Regions from separate parts of the Homo sapiens genome. Here region 1 is linked to region 2. The links come from fine-mapping of genetic effects on gene expression. Tissue or cell type: whole blood. Region 2 holds a variant in brackets; the other region holds the start of a gene. All regions are shown on one strand. Distances are from middle to middle.

Region 1 (8,180 bases), 120 kb after region 2:
CAGGTGAGAGCAGAGCTGAGAGGTTCTGCTAACCACGTCAGGGGACTCCAAGTACTCTGGTGATCACCAAAACCGATGAAAAACAACAGGTAAAGAGTTCAGGAAAACACTGTTTTGTGTCCTGCCAGTAAAACCAAACAGAAATTAAAACTTTTTTTTAAATAAAGCTGTCAAAATATTGAACCGTAACAAAATTAATAAAGTAAACAAGCTATGCCAATACTTACCTATATACCTAAAAAGTATACATACCCTAATTGGCCCAAAAGAAGATGTAAGGAGCTTCTAATTGGAAAATGATGGGACTGTAATATTTATGGTTACCTGCTATCATGGCATATTAGTTAAATAAGTGCCCCTCTATTAAACAACATGCAACAACATCCAGCATTCAACTTTCCTGGCAGGAGTCAAGCAATTCCAATGGACAGTAAAGTACCAAAAGTAATTTTCAGCCGAAATCTTTGTCAACCAACTGTATAGGGTTGCTCAATGCCTGATATGCTATTACAATCCTTCCCACTCCCGAAGCATGTGCTGGACCTAATGCTATTATCCCAGCATGGTAGTATAGTGCTAGTGTAGTGTGAATACACCATGCGGGACTCCTGCTTATTAGTTAAATAAGTGCTCGTCTATTAAACAACATCCAGAAACATCCCAAAAACACAAAAAGTCATGAACATGACTATGCACCCATAAAGAAAGTCAACCAAGGGTCTCAACATATGGTGAGTAAAACATCAATTTCCTGCTAATACTAAATGTCACTACTAAAAAGTTCCAAGCTTCAACCCCTTTGACAAGTTCTAAAAGGTACTACAAATGCCACAGAATTCCCGGAGTGGCATCAAAGCTTCAGCCTGTCACATGTCAGAGGTTACCTCCTAACCTCCTGGTCAAACACAAAGTCCCCCAAGATAAACTGAGAGGACATCTGTAAACAGATGGTCATCAGAATGTCCCAGCGTTTTACTAGAAGCGGGGCTCCGAATATCACATAATTTATCAGAACAGAAGAAGGTAACCCACTTATTCTGCAAATAAAGATATTTAATTATAAATACCTTACATCAAAAACAGCAAGGCCAGGAAGGAAAAGTTTGAAAATTTCTAACGCAAGCATTTAGCTGGATTTAATCACAATTAAAACCAAAGAAAAAAATTCCCCTTCAGCAGTGCCCCCCAAGTGACCCCCAGTGACTATCCTTGACTGTCCCCATTCTTCCTGATCCATAGAAAAAAAAACCCATTGCAGCAAAGTATGGCATTTAACTCAAGCTCAACATCCAAGGGTTTAAGTTCCTAACCTTAACCTTAGAGATTTGCAGTACTGCCTAATCCAGGTGCTAGAATGTTCCCAGCATTTCAGGATTACACATAGTGGAAGGACTAGGCATCACCAACTCCTTAAATGGTCAAAAGTAGAGGAATAAAGTTGTGTTTCTAAAGCAAATGATTATTCCAATAGATAATGTATTTTTTTTAACATTTAAGTGCTTTTCTCCATTTAAAGAAATTAACAAAACCCGGGTCCTTTCTTTTCTCATTTAAACCAGCATCCCATGCCCTCTCTCCTGGTAACTGTTCACAAGGTGGCAAGGGTGTGTAATAAGAAGCTGTAAGAAGCTTTTAAAACCAAATCATTGAAGCCATCCAGAGAAGATCTTTCGTCTAAAACAGAAGCAGCGAAGGCCCTAAAATGCGGCTGTACCAAAAATAATAATAATAAATATAAATGACCCCCGTGGGAATGCAACCCTGCCTGGGAGCCCAGGAGAAGACCTTGGCTTCTGGTTAGACACTGCCAAGTCCAAAAGGGCTGGGTCAAAAGGCTCCTGGGGCCTCCAGATTAACTCCTTCCAGACTACTAGAAGCATTCCTCCAAACCCCAGTCCCACTCTGCCTTCTGCCCTCCCCTCCTTAGCCACACCGCAGGCAGGAGGCCCGCGGGCTTCCCAGAGCAGCCATCAGAGCCCTGTCAGAAACGTTAAGGGCTAACTTTTCTCTAGGCAGGCCCAGGGTGTGCAGAGGGAGTGTCTGGGGACCCAGAGGAAGAAGGTCCCCGTTTCTAGGGAGACGCAAGGGCGATGCTAAGTTTAAGAGGCAGGGTAACAAGTCCGGCCAAGGAATCGGGGGTGAGCGACGGGACAGGAAGGCGTGCCCACTCCACAGGAGGATGGGACACACGTGAACAAGCGGCGAGCTGCCCAGGGGCCGGATGCCGCCACCAAGCAAGCGAAGTTGGAGGAAGAGCAACAGCGGAGTGGGCCAACGCAGGACCACCCGTGGTCTCCTCCGCACCTCATCACTGCCCCCCACGCCCAAGCACCCACCCACACACTCCCACGTGCCGTGGCCACTTCCGCCGAGACAGATACTCACCTTTGCCGCCGGCGCGGTCCTGCTGGTCGCCAGCTCCCGCAGACTGCCGGCGGTGCTGCCCGCGGCCGCGGAGAGGAAAACCGGGGAACCCGGGGTGCTGCCTGCCGCGCCGCCCCCGCCGCCCGCGAGCGTGGGGGCCGCACTCTGGCCTGGGATGGGACGCGCGGGCGGGCTGCCGCCGGGGCTGGTGCCCGCGCGGGGCCGCTGACGGATGCCGTCCAGCAGTCGCACCAGCAAGATGTTGGCGGGCAGTTCGTCCACGCCGCAGCCCACCAGGATGCGGCACTCGGGGCAGCGCAGCTCGTGGCGCGAGCACACGATGCTCTCCAGGCAGCGGCGGCAGAAAGTGTGTTGGCATGGCAGCACCTTGGCCGTGGTGTCCAGGCGCTCCAGACACACGGAGCACTCCAGCAGGTCCAGCAGCGACGACTCGTCCATGTCCTCGCCCGCCCCCGCGGCGGTGGCCGCCGCCCGACGCCGCCGTCGCTCGCCTGGCCTGTCCTCGTCGCCCTCGCTCTGCGCAGCAGCGGCGGCCGCCTTGGATGCGCACAGCCAGGACGCTCCGAGCAGCATGGGGGAGGCGCCCGCAGCGGTCTCGCGCGGCTGCCTAGGTCCCGGGGCCGGCGTGGAGCCCGCCACCGGCAGCCAGCATCAGGACTGGGGAGCCGGGCTCCGCCGTGACTTTCTTCACCCCGGCTGGTGGCCCGATGCTAGGGCTGTGGCGGTGCGAAGTGGCTCACCGACCGGCCTGCGTGGCGGGGACCGGCCTGCGTGGCGGGGACCGGCCAGCCGAGCCCGCCCAGTCCTGAGCGCAGCGCCTGCGGCTGCGGGCTACACCTGTCCCGCCGCAAGTCCGCCCCGCGCGGGGGACCGGGGGTGCTGCCGGGCACGAAGCTCAACGGGTTCTGTGCTGCAAGCGGCGGCTCGCGCCTGGGAGACCAGCGGCAGGAAGTGCGGGCAGCGGCCGGCCAGGTCCCCGGGGAGGCCGGGGCGCGGCGTGCACGCTCCTCCGCGCAGCTGGCGAGCCGCACCGCCCCCGCGGCACCTCCATGCGCCCCTGGCCTGCTCGCTAGTCGCTGTCCTCCAGAGGATTCAGCAGGACCGTTCCTCTTCCTCGGCCGCGAGCACGTGCGCGGGGGTGCGCGCGGAGGTCACGGTCACTGCGGGGCTCAGGGAAGGAGGCGCCGTGCCTGCAGGACTTCCCTTCGCTTGGGCGCAAGCCGGCGATTAGCCTGGTCCCCTAGGACATCTCCAGGGCTCCGGGGAACCTCTCCTGCGCAGGCTTGGCCCTGCCTCCTCCAAGCGTCCGAGTCTTTTTCGGCTTTTCGTGAGCCTCAGAGAGGGACGTTTCCTGCCAACGCTGCTGCGAAGGAAAGTTTGGGCGGCGTTATCCCGACTGCCTTCCTCGCCAGCGCCGGCGAGCAGCTTGGGGACACAGCCGACGCCCGGGCATCCTCCCCGACGACCCCCCGGAGCGCTCCCAGTTCAGACTCCTTTCCGAGAAGCGCGCAGAAGTGACAGCCCCGGAGCTTCGTTCCGGTGTAGGTGTGGGGATGCGCCGCAAGGCAGGAGGGGAAGGCGCTCCAGTTGAAGGGGGCACCCCGGGGCCCGCGCCGACTCCTCCCGGCGCAGCCTTGGCTCGCCGGAGTCGCGGGTCGGAGGCTGGCGCCGCTGCCCGCCGACCAGCACCCTGGCGCCAGGCGCCCGGCTCCACGCCGCACCCTTGGCGACGCTGTGCGAGGGGCTCTAGCGCCCGCCGCGGCGCAGTCTCGTGAACCCCCGCTCCAATTTTTTCCTACGGAGGCGCAGAGGAGGGTGAATTCGCGCTCTCCTTCCCGACGCCCCGGCTTCTGGGAGCGTCAGAGCAACGGAAGTACGTACAGGAGGACCGAGAGCAGCAGGGAAGTTTGGCGGTGGGCTGGGGTCGGCGGCGAAGATTCCCTGCCGTGCGCTGCCCCCTCGTGGCCGCTTTGCGTTCCCGTCGGGAAGGGCTGGGTTCCAGTCCAGGGCCCAGCACAAACCAGGATTGGTTGGACGCTGCACAGCGAGTTCAGTCAGGGCTAACATCAGAAGAGTCGTGGGGGGCCTGCCTATCGGCCAGCCTGTCCTTGTGGTTTGTGAAGTTGTATGATCTTTCTGTTATTATTAAGGAAAAAAGTAGTATTTGTTGAGGCTAAAAGGCCAAGAGCGTGCTATATATTATTTAATCCTCTAAACAGCTCTGCCAGATAATTATTTTATTTATTTATATTTACTTCCATAGCTTTAGACAGGATCTCGTTCTGTCAGGCAGGCTAGAGCGCGGGGTGCTATCACGGCTCACTGCAGCCTCAAACTCTTGGGCTCAAGCCATCCTTTCACCTCAGCCTCCTGAATAGTTGAAACTACAGGTGCGCCACCACGCCTGGCTAAATTTTTAATTTAAATTTTTTGTAGCGACAGGGTCTCCTTATGTTGCCCAGGCTAGTCTCAAACTCCTGGGCTCAAGAGATCCTCCAACCTCATCTTCACAAAGTGCTGGGAGTACAGGCGCCAGCCACGGTGCCCAACCTGTGATAATTATTTTAAACTCATTTTACAAATGAGGAAAGTGATATTCATACTTGTAAAGCCATTGGGGCTGAATTTTCATTTTTGTATCCACAGAACTAACACATAAAGTTTACATGCCATTAGAATGTAAGCTCTCTGTAAGCTACAGATCTTTTCTACTGTAATATCCTTAGTGCCTAGGGCAGTGACTAGCATATAGTAGGTGTTCAATAAATATTTGTAGAATTAATGAAAGGATACGTCTCTCTTTCTCTCTCTCCCTCTCTCTCTCTCTCTCTCTCATCACCTACTGGTGATTTGAAGGCAGATCTTAGTATCTCAATTACACATATCCTGTGCTTATATCAGGATGCTAGTCCCTGGAAACTTTGCTTCTGATAGCAGCAGGTGGCTTTCTTAACCTGGATGTCTCTCAGCAATGTGGATTTCCATCTGTATGATTTACATCAGCGCCAACAACAGGGTGAGATGGAAAGCATCCCAGAGCTGCCTGGCTTCCCTTGAGGGCCGAAGGAAGGGCACACACCTCGCAGTGCATGGAAACATGTTCACATGAGCCACCTTTCACTCTTACCCTTGCTCAGGAACAAGGGGAATTTTTTAGAGCACCCAGGATGCTTGATCCAAGAGCAGATGGTAGACAAGGGGGAGCATAAAGAGGGGACCCATCAGGCACTGGAAGGGCTCACAGAGAGCAAGGACGGCCTGTGACGACATGCCCTGGTGCTTTTGGTTGCAAGCAACAGAAACCAACTCTAGGTAAATTTTAAAGGGAGCAGAATATACACTAATAATACGAGGCATCTCATAGGATCCCAGGCTAAGAGCTGAGCCAGATTAGCACAGATAGAGCCTGCAGTGTGTGTTGCTGTCCCTGTCTCTAGTTGATGACTCAACCCTTCACTTTCTTGCACCAGCTGCCTCTGCTTCCCAACCCACATGACAGAAAATGCGGTCAAATCTTCATGAGCCTTTCTTCCAACAACATCAGCCACTCCTGGAAGTTCTAAAACTCTATCACTAGTATGGACCAGTGGTCACTCTTTGGACCCGTGTGCCTTGGCCACAGGAGCAGGATCATCTGGAACCTGGCAGCACTCTCTGTAGTCACACAGGAGAAGTGAGAATTTCCAGAAGAATTGCCGTGCTGGGCAGTCAGAACCACAGATGCCCGTGCCAGAAGCTCACCGCCACATCTCTGCCCTCAGTACATCTTTATCTTGCACGACCCAAGACAGACAAGAGCAAGAGAGAGCCACTTAAGCCCACCTTTCCCAGCTTTCTTCTCTCTCCACTTTACCCCTTTTGCCCCTGCCATAACCAGCACCCACAGGACACACAGACTATGCACCCAGATGTCCACAGTGACTGGGCAGGGCATGAAATTAACGAAGCAGGGTGAACCCCAGGCAACAGGGCCTGGTGGGGACTGCAGTGAGCTTTGTCTGCACCCTTCAGAGGAAGTAGCTGCTGCCCAGCTCCAGCCCTGGGGGAATGACGACCAAATGTTGCTAGACCTTCATACCTTTCAAGAGAAGTTGGAAGTGCTGCTTTTTACATGACATCTCCTGATGTTCAACAGTTGGCAACCGATTTAGTTCTCAAAAACCACCATATTAGCCAAACAAAATAAATGTGTGGTCAAATTGGCCTACAGACCGCCAGTTTACAATTTCTGGTTGAAGTAGCCAAGTACACTGTGCTACAGCGTGAGGGAATTTGAGGGTGTGAACTAAATAGTTGAAGTATTACAAATACAGTCTTATGTTACTCGGTTAAATTTGCACATGTTCAATAAGCCAATTATATAAGTAAATAATTGAGAAGACCTGGCTTTACAGCCATTCCTAAAAAGATCTGGGGATTTCAGTTGACCACAAGCATTGTATGAGCCAACATGAGTCATCTATGTACTATGGCTGACTAGAGAAGTAACGAAATCTTCGGATGCCTTCATGAAAGTTAAGGTGGGGGGTGGTCAGGGTTTGGAAAAAAATAATCCCATTGTACCTCAGACTTGTGAGATTACTTCCAATTCTGGGTACCAAAAATTAATGACGATGTGGTAAGGGATCCGGAGGCCTCATCCATGAGTTTCAGTTGAAGGAACACAGGGCGTCTGTCCAAAGGAGAAAAAGCTCAGAGGAAACAGGACTGGACGGCTGTATGTCAGGTTTTTGGCGGCCCAAAATTTGAACTTCTTTTTAGATTTGGAAGACGCTCCACATGGTGATAGTCAGATAATTCTAACCCCCCCACCAACTCTGCTAAGGTGTGGGAATGTGACAGGCTCAGCTAGTCAAAAGCTGCCCCTCCCCCACCACACTCTGGGAGGTGGAGGGACGTGGGCAGAGGAAGCACCGAGAGTTCAGCAGCTATGGGGCAGGTGGCTGGCAGCAGCAGTGCCTGCAGCCTGTAGCATCTCAGAGTGGGGGCACGCCTTGGCAACAGGCCAACCCCAGACTTGACTGCCTGGTGAGCCTGGACTGTAGCCTCCACTGCTTTCCTGGCCTTGCTGTTGATCTTATGGGTTTTCCAATTTCATTTCCTTAGTTTCTTTTTCGTTAAATCAACCAGAGTCCATTTTTGTTGTTTTCAACTGGGAACCCAAATTGATGCACATTATTTACGATAAACAAAGCCCCTCTATATGAGACAATCATCACTGCACTGAACAGCAGCTATAGTTGCAGAACCCTGGAGGATCTCCGCCAGGCATTGCACCGTGTGGGGTTGAGGAAGGTTTAGTCAGGCAACCCTAAACGTACTCATTTGGGGCAAGAAGAAATCTGATACAGGGAGACACAAGATTGGAAGTTACTGGTTAAAAACTAACACAGGACGACAACAAAGCAAATCCACTTAATGCCACTGAACTGTACACTTTAAAATGGGTAAAATGGTCACTTTTATGTTATGTATTTTCTGACAATTTTTAAAACAAAACTGCAGCCGGGCATGATGGCTCATGCCTGTAATCCCAGCACTTTGGGAGGCCGAGACGGGCGGATCACCTGAGGTCAGGAGTTCGACACCAGCCTGGCCAACATAGTGAAACCCTGTCTTTACTAAAAATAAAACAAATTAGCCCAGGCACGGTGGCTCACGCCTGTAATCCCAGAACTTTGGGAGGCCGAGGCGGGCAGATCACCTGAGGTCAGCAGTTCGAGACCAGCCTGACTAACATGGTGAAACCCTGTCTCTACTAAAATACAAAAATTTGCCGGATGTGGTGGTGGGCA
Region 2 (8,180 bases):
GCCCACCAGTCGCCATCTCCACACATTCATCTATCACAAGATTCATAAAGGGACCAAATGACCACAATATTCCTTGGACATGTCTGCCACCATTTAATTTCAATGACAACTTCTTGTCCATAGATTTTTTCAACTCGGGAGGGTGAGCTTTGCTCATGGTGTCTACTCCATGCACTCACAGATGCCTTGGAAAGGAATGCACAGACTCCCTCATGCTCCCGCGGCAGGCCGGGTGTCTTGCATCTCTCTAATTCTTTGTTAAAGATAATTTGGGCCGGGCATGGTGGCTCACGCCTGTAATTAATCCCAGCACTTTGGGAGGCTGAGGCGGGTGGATAACCCAAGGTAAGGAGTTCGAGACCAGCCTGGCCAACATGGTGAAACCCCATCTCTACTAAAAATAAAAAAATTAGCCAGGCATGGTGGCAGATGCCTGTAATCCCAGCTACTGTGGGAGGCTGAGGCAGGGGAATCACTTGAACCTAGGAGGCAGAGGTTGCCATGAGCCGAGATCATGCCACTGCACTCCAGCCTGGGCGACAGAGTGAGACTCAATCTCAAAAAAAATAAATAAATAAAAATATTAATAATTTGAAAAAAAAAGCTATACAGAATGCAATGTATATGCCTAAACAACGTTAATTTAGAAATTTAAAAAGATAATTTTTAAAATGGTTTCACTTTTTTGGATTTACTCCAGGTAAGTGATTTGATTTTTTGTTCTACCTAAACAGCACTGGATATAATTATTTCCCAGGGCTTCAAAATTCTGAAAATCCTAATTCCCTATTGAAGCACTTTTTTTTTCTAAAATAGCTAATTACTAAATTATAACAAACATAGAAGTTGAATTTGGCAAGTTATGGTAGTTTGCTTCTAGGTCCTCCTTTGATATAAATATGTTTTCCATATTTGCCTCATACTCAATAGTTTTCTAAATTTAGCCCAGGAAACATACCACTATTATTATTATTATTACTGTTATTATTTTGTTAAAGGTTTTTCTGTATTTATCATGTTTTGAAAAAGAAAAACGGTCAAATTCTAGATCCTTTAAAATCCAGTCCATTATTATTCCATTTATTTTAATAATAATAATAAATATTTAAACCTGGTAAGTTTTCCGAGTATATCAAAATTTATTATGATGATTGTTTCATGAAGAAACGAAGTTGTATATAATACAAGCTTACATTGCTAAGCTCAGAAGTGAATTCAGAGCTGATGGAGACTGTTAGCTTGTGCATGTTTAGAAACCCCCACGTTGGCTCTGTCCAACCAGCAATGGGCGAGATGTCTTCCCCAGGGCTTCCAAAGTTCTAAACATTCTCGTAACTTGGTTCAGTTGCCTTTCCCTAAATACAAATTCCTGAATTATATCAAAACCTTAGGGAACATTCCTAGGAGTGGAGAAAAACCTTAAAGACAGAGAAAAACCTTAAGGACAGATAAAAACAAGAATTCTAATTAGACAAAAAAAAAAAAAAAGGAACACCTACTGTTTTGCCCTCAAAAACACTGATGTCAGTCATGGTAAAAATAACAAGTTTTCATTTATATTTCACTGACTTAAAATTTGGTAGAGATCTGGTGCAGGCCGGGCGCGGTGGCTCACGCCTGTAATCCCAGCACTTTGGGAGGCCAAGGCAGGTGGATCATGAGGTCAGGAGATCGAGACCATCCTGGCTAACACAGTGAAACCCCGTCTCTACTAAAAAATAAAAAAATTAAAAAATAAATAAATAAAACAAAAAATTAGCCGGGCGCGGTGGCGGGCGCCTGTAGTCCCAGCTACTCAGGAGGCTGAGGCAGGAGAATGGCGTGAACCTGGAAGGCGGAGCTTGCGGAGCTTGCAGTGAGCTGAGATCGCACCACTGTACTCCAGCCTTGATGACACAGCAAGACTCTGTCAAGAAAGAAAGAAAGAAAGAGAGAAACAGAGAAAGAGAGAGAGAAAGAAAGAGAAAGAAAGAAAGAAAAAGAAAGAAAGGAAAGGAAGGAAGGAAGGAAGGAAGGAAGGAAGGAAGGAAGGAAGGAAGGAAGGAAAGAAAGAAAGAAAAAGAAAGAATGAAAGAAAGAAAGAAAGAAAGAAAGAAAGAAAGAAAGAAAGAGAAAGAGAGAAAGAGAGAGAGATCTGGTGCAGGAGGGAAGGGTTCCTTGCTCAACAATTCTCCAGATCCTCTGAGCTTTGGTTTCCTCATGTAGTCATGGCAATAATACCAACTTGCTCGGGGATTTTTTGCAAAGATTATGTGTTAGGTTTCCTTCCCTCCATCTTAAGAATCACTGCTCAGGCCCTCTTCTTTTACCAAATAACTTTTCAACAGAAACCTGAAGAAAGAACAGGGTAGGAGTCGGGGGGGAGTTGCTTAGCTGAAGTTAACGAGTGTAGTTCTTGGCCAGGTGTGGTGGCCCACACCTGTAATCAATCCTTTTTTGAGAGGCCAAGACAGGGAAATTGCTTGAAGCCAGGAGTTTAAGACCAGCCTAGGCAACATAGTGAGCTGTGGTCTCTACACAAAATTACAAATTAGCTGGGCATGGTGGCATGCACCTATAGTCCCAGCTACTCAGGAGGCTGAGGTGGGAGGATCACTTAGGCCCAGGAGTTGGAGGCTGCATCCCAGCCTGGGTGACAGAGCAAGACAGGACAGGACAGGACAGGACAGGACAGGACAGGACAGGACAGGAAAGGACAGGAAAGGAAAGGAAAAAGGAAAGGAAAAAGGAAAACGAAAAGGAGAAAAGAGAGAAAGAGAGAAAACGAAAGAGAAAGAGAGACAGAAAGAGAAAGACAGAAAGAAGAGAAAGAGAGAGAGAGAGAAGGAAGGAAAGAAGGAAAGGAAGAAAGAAAAGAAGGAGGCAAGGAAAGAAGGAAAGGAAAGAAATGCAGTACTTCATTTTTCTCTTCACTCACCAAGTGTACTAATTATTTGCTTGCACTTGAATATTCAAACCTATTTAATATACATGTTTGGTCAATTAATGTCTCAAGGTTTCTGTCTGCATTGCAATTGTCTTAGACTGGAATTAACTACAGGGTAGTAACATCCATTTAATTCCACTTGGAAAATGCCACTTGCAGAGCAGGCCTGCATAAATGACTTTGATGCAGTGAGAAAATGGAGCTTACCTAATAAAAACACTTCTTAATTATCCTACCAAAAGGAAAAAAATGAGAGCGATAACACATAATCATGAGAGGCAAAACCATAAAACTTTCAGGAAACAATAAGAAGAATATCTGTATGGCTTCAAGGGTGGGGAAGATTTTTAAAACAATAGCCAAAATGAGCACATCAGAAAAGAAAAAGATTGAGAGAAGTGACCTTGTTTATTAAAAGTAAGAACTCCTATTCATCTGAATCAACATATATAGCAATGAAAGAATTAATATCCAGAATATATTTTAAAAACTCCTCCTAATATAAAAGATCA[A/G]CAATCAAAAGAAAACAGGCAGTGGACTTTGTGGTGGATTGTAGAGTAACAGCCTCCAATTGATTCATGTTCCCTGGATCCAGGCCCTTGGAATATTCCATCCAAGGTTGCCTCTAGATTTGGCAGCCCTGTGACTTCCTTTGGCTAATGAGACAACAACAATTATGATGCAGATGGAGGTTTAAAAAGCGCTTGCACGTTGGAGTCTGCCTTTTCTTGTTGCTTACTGGGACCTTCAGTCCACCACATGAAGACGCCCAGGCTAGCCTTTGGGGGATATAAGAGACCATGTGGAGAGGAACCCAGGCCATCCTTGCTGCCCCAGTAACCCCAGCCAACACACACAACAGTGAGTTAAATAAAAAGGTATTATTTTAAGCCTCTAAGTTTTGGGTTTCTGTTATACAGCAAATCCTAACTGATACAGGGAAAAACATATAGAAGATGTTCTCCTTCACTGGCAATCAGAAACTAACAAAGGAAGAGCTAACGCAGCCAGTCCGTCAACTGTGAGGTGTTAAGGACACTCACACCTTTGTTTACAAAGAGAAGTCGCCAAGTGTAACCAGGCAAGAGTTTCTGCACAGGAAGAGCACAGCAGGCTGGACTGACACGTGACCACCCATGCCTGCCTTAAGGTGGGAAGAATAATGGTTTTGCACAAAAACTTCCAGGAAGTGTCCTCAGAGGAACGGTCAGGAGCCGTGACGTTCAGGGATCATCTGGGAAGCTCAGCTGGTCTTACACAAGTGTGCTAGGTTACTTAGGAAGTAAACTGATCTAGAAACTAACGAAGTTCAGGGAGGGGCTGCAGAGATTTGGATAAAGGGCTCAAGAAAGCTCTTGAAAGCCATCCTTGGTGTGTCACCGATTCCAGGACATTAAGGACTCACTGCAGCACATAATCTGTGGGCATCTGTGTGGGGTGTGACTTCATTCTGTTCTCCCTTATCTCATAGCTTCCTTGTCCTCTGCAAACCCAAACTCCATGTTTCATGTCTCTGGATAATATCCATACACCCATGGGATTACAATTCCCCAAACAGGGGAAAATGAAAAATTAAAATGGTTTTAGAGTTGAATGTAGTTGTGACTACAGGAAAGATGTCACATCATCTCAAAAAGTGAGGGTCCGACCAGAAAGAGACTAACCAGCATCCTCCACCATGAGTCCTCCTCATGCTCTGGGAACGCCTCCTCAAGGCTGAGCTGCAGCATTGGCCTGGAGCCCTGAGTCAGAGGGGTCCTAGCATCAAACCTGTGCCACCGAATGGAAGGAAGACACCCCCAGCATCGCTGTCACAACAGAAGCACGTGGATGAGCTAGGGCATCCGACTGCAGTTCAACTCAGAGCAAGCGAGGCTCTCCAGGCTCAGGTATCATCTCCACCCCGGCATCCCCACTGCCTCCCAGTCCATCTGAGCAGAGACATCCAGCCTTAGGACGAGCCAGGGCAATTCCACCAGGCACGTTAAGTCCACAGGTCAAATAAGACACGTGCAGGGAGATACACTGGCTGTGTGTGGAAAGGAAGGCTGGAGGGTACTACAGTGGTGAAACATCTACACTCTCCAGCCATCCTGTTAGGCATGATATTCCTTGGAGTATGCAATGGACTGAATGTATGTGTCATCCTAAAAGTCATATGTTAAATCCTAACCTCCAAGGTAATGCTATTAGGAGCTGAGGCCTTTGGGGAGGTGACCGGATCGTGAGGGTGGAGCCCTCATGAATGGGATTAGTGTCTTACTAAAGAGGCCTCGGAGAGTTGCCTTGCCCCCTCTACCATGGGAGGACACAGTGAGAAGGCACCGTCTGTGAACCTGGAGGCCAGTCTTTACCAGACATCGAATCTGCCAGTGCCTTGATCTTGGACGACCAGCGTCTAGAACTGTGGGAAATAAATTGCTGCCGCTTTTAAACCACTGCGTTTACGGTATTTTGTTACAGCAGCTTGAAAAGCCTAAGGCAGCCTCTGTCAACCTCACAACCACCCTGCAAAGCAGGTATCCTCCCACTTCACAAATGAAGAAACAGAAGCTAAGTAACTTGCCCAATGTTATCACAGTCCTAGGTGTAAAATTGAAGTATGAATCCAGGTGTCTTGATTTCAAAAATCCATGCTCTTTTTTTGTTTCACCACACTGGTTTTTTGTGAATAAGCCAGCTTAGAGACTTTCATTATAGCAGTAATTTTTTTTTGTTCCCTCAAAGGATTTCCTGAGACCAGTAAATGATGCCCGGGATTGTGTTAAGTACTCTAGATTTCAAGTGTTAAGTACTCTAGATTCAATCTCTCATGATGGATTTACAAACTCCATAAAGATCTGAGGGTCCCCCTGAGGCAACTTTAACCAGAAAATCTGAAGGTCCAGGAATTATAGCAAAAATGATGACTTAGAATGAATTTCCTGAATTTGTTAAGATATTTATTGTGGCCAATTTCAGAGAGAAATCTTAACAAATATGGTCTCAGTTCAAGGGATAAGAAGCAAATATGAAAACTCGTAAAGTTATTTTATATATAGACTTAAATTTGTCTCCTCAAAGCCCAAGTTCCTATAATAACATGTCAGGCTAGAGGTGCAGTTTGTCCAATAAAAATAAAAACTTAATTTACTTTTTATTTCTAGTTGACTCTTAGAAAGGAAAATAATCAACTCACATAGGAAGCACTAATGTGCAAATTATTTTGCCAGACTCTGAGGGTCTGAATATCCAGACAAAAACCACAAAGAAACAAAAATTACATGAAAGCACCAAGAGGGAATTCCAGTTACAGCAGAGGTTGACACTGTCCCCAAGTTGGGGACAGAGGGAATGACCACAGGCATGGGCCTCACCTTGACCATGGCAGCAGACAGCTCTACTCCTGTCTCTGTGGTCTGAAAACCTCAGAGCAGCCAGTAAGATGACCCTAGAGAGACAGGAGCTATACATTCACCAGGAGCACAGAAGCCACATGGCAAGAACCCAAGTGGGCTCCAGCAGGGGAGCTTCCCGTGAGATGGTGGAGGGGCTCTCATTCTATCTGCTGAGAACTGGGCACACTCTGCTCAGCAATGGGTCCCTCAGCACAAGGCTGCCCAGACAACAGGACTAAACACTTAAAGGGGACGCCATCCAACAACAAAGACAGCAAGAACTGTACTCACAGTTCTCCATAGAGATACTGGCACCTGATCAAGTCTCAAACCCAAGGGCAAGCTCAGGGCCAGCCAACTTTGTCTTGCTTCTAACTTGTGTCCACACCCTGCAGAATATGACGATGGCACAGGCTGCAGTGGGAAAGGTGTGTAAAACCTCCCCTGTTCTCAGGCCACCCCTCCAAGGCCAGCAGCAGGAGGGGCACCTGCCCTGGGCCACAGGCTGCCTCAAGGGCCCGGGCATTGAGGTTCTGAGTGACTTTGACTCCTGTCTCTAGAGGCTGTGATTCTCAGTGCTGCAGATAATACCATCTCCATATTTCCTCCCTGTGTTTGCCTAACAGAAACTCCGATATCTTCTCCTGCTAACTGGCATTCTTGGGTTTTCCTCATCCTGCCAGCTTATTCCTATAGCAACTATTAGGTGGAACAGCTCTCATCTTAAAAACAGTTCCAAACAGCTTAGGGCCCTATAAATTTAATTTTCAATCTCACATTTGGCATTTGTTTGGGGGTAGTTCCAACACATCAGGAAGACAGAATTGCATTCATGGGCAAAAATCAGTACTGATGGTTTTGCCTAAAGACTGAATATAGTATTTACTTTCATAATACCACCTGAGGTTTATATATTAGGACAATTCTGCTCTGTGTCACTTTTCTCACCTGCTCCTAGATGCAAAATGTGCACATTTGCCTGAAGAAGCTGTTGCATAATGCTTTGTTGTACCTCCTGTGTGCTTCTTAAATGTTTTATGCCCCCGTCATGTTTTATCTCCAGCTCGGATTAGAATCCATTGTTTTGCAGTCCATAAATAGTACATCCTTCAAACAGTACAAAAAAAATAGCTACAGAGGATTTGCTGAATTGTAAGTTCAAGGAAAACTATTCTTTCTATCAGGATTCTAGGCAATCTAGGACCAACAGAGAAAATACCCTCGCTACAATTACCCATCTCACTGTTTAATGATCACTGCTGATGGCAAAAACTTCACCTATGAGCACATGAGCTGGGCAGGGCAAACAGAACCACCAAGTGCCCATGGCTGCATGTCGGTGGCATGAGCTCTTCTGGTGTCTAAGCCTCTCTCACTCACTACTCACTCATCTATTTACTCACTCAAGATCTTTCTAAAGCAAACCAGATCACGTATTGTCCTGATTACAGCCTTTCAATGGCTTCCCAACGCACAGAGAACATGTCCCAAACTCCTTTCCTGGATTGCAAAACCACTCGGGCCACCCCGAGGTTCTCTGAAAACACCATGCTCAATCTCTCCTTAGTCTCCCTGTACCAGGCGATTGTCCCCGACCTTTGCCTCCCTGGCCCCTTCTCACCACTCATATCTTCAGCTCTCAGTTTAGACACCATCTCTTTAAAAATGTTCCCCAGCCACCAAATATAAAAGTCATTCTCTGTCATTCTCCATTATAGGTTCCCATGGTGTTAATTACCTGTATGTCACCTGCCCCATCTGACTTTTTTCATGAGCATTTCCTGTTCATTGGCCTCCCTGGCTGGAATGCACACGAGGAGAATACGAAAATCCCTTCCTCATTTGCCACCACACACTTGATGCAAGAAGAAAGGACA

The links. PIP is the estimated chance that this variant, and not a neighbour inherited with it, causes the effect.
Region 1: SH3RF3 starts here. The variant in region 2 is fine-mapped to the expression of SH3RF3 in whole blood (INTERVAL, PIP above 0.99).

Annotation. Positions count from the first base shown.
Region 1 is chr2:109,124,319-109,132,498 of GRCh38, reverse strand. SH3RF3 (SH3 domain containing ring finger 3) reads right to left here and starts at 3,294. Exons shown (of 10, transcript NM_001099289.3): 1 at 2,386-3,294. The coding sequence starts at 2,958. SH3RF3-AS1 (SH3RF3 antisense RNA 1) reads left to right here and starts at 2,380. Exons shown (of 1, transcript NR_029193.1): 1 at 2,380-5,172. It also overlaps a transcript of RANBP2 not described here. RefSeq lists silencers at 3,279-3,478, 3,509-3,558, 3,569-3,638, 4,019-4,078.
Region 2 is chr2:109,243,399-109,251,578 of GRCh38, reverse strand. The region is part of intron 1 of SH3RF3 (SH3 domain containing ring finger 3); the gene reads right to left. It also overlaps a transcript of RANBP2 not described here and the pseudogene SNRPGP9. Among named protein-coding and RNA genes, the nearest start is that of MIR4266, 66 kb to the left of the region's middle. The variant A/G (reference allele first, on the strand shown) is at 3,439.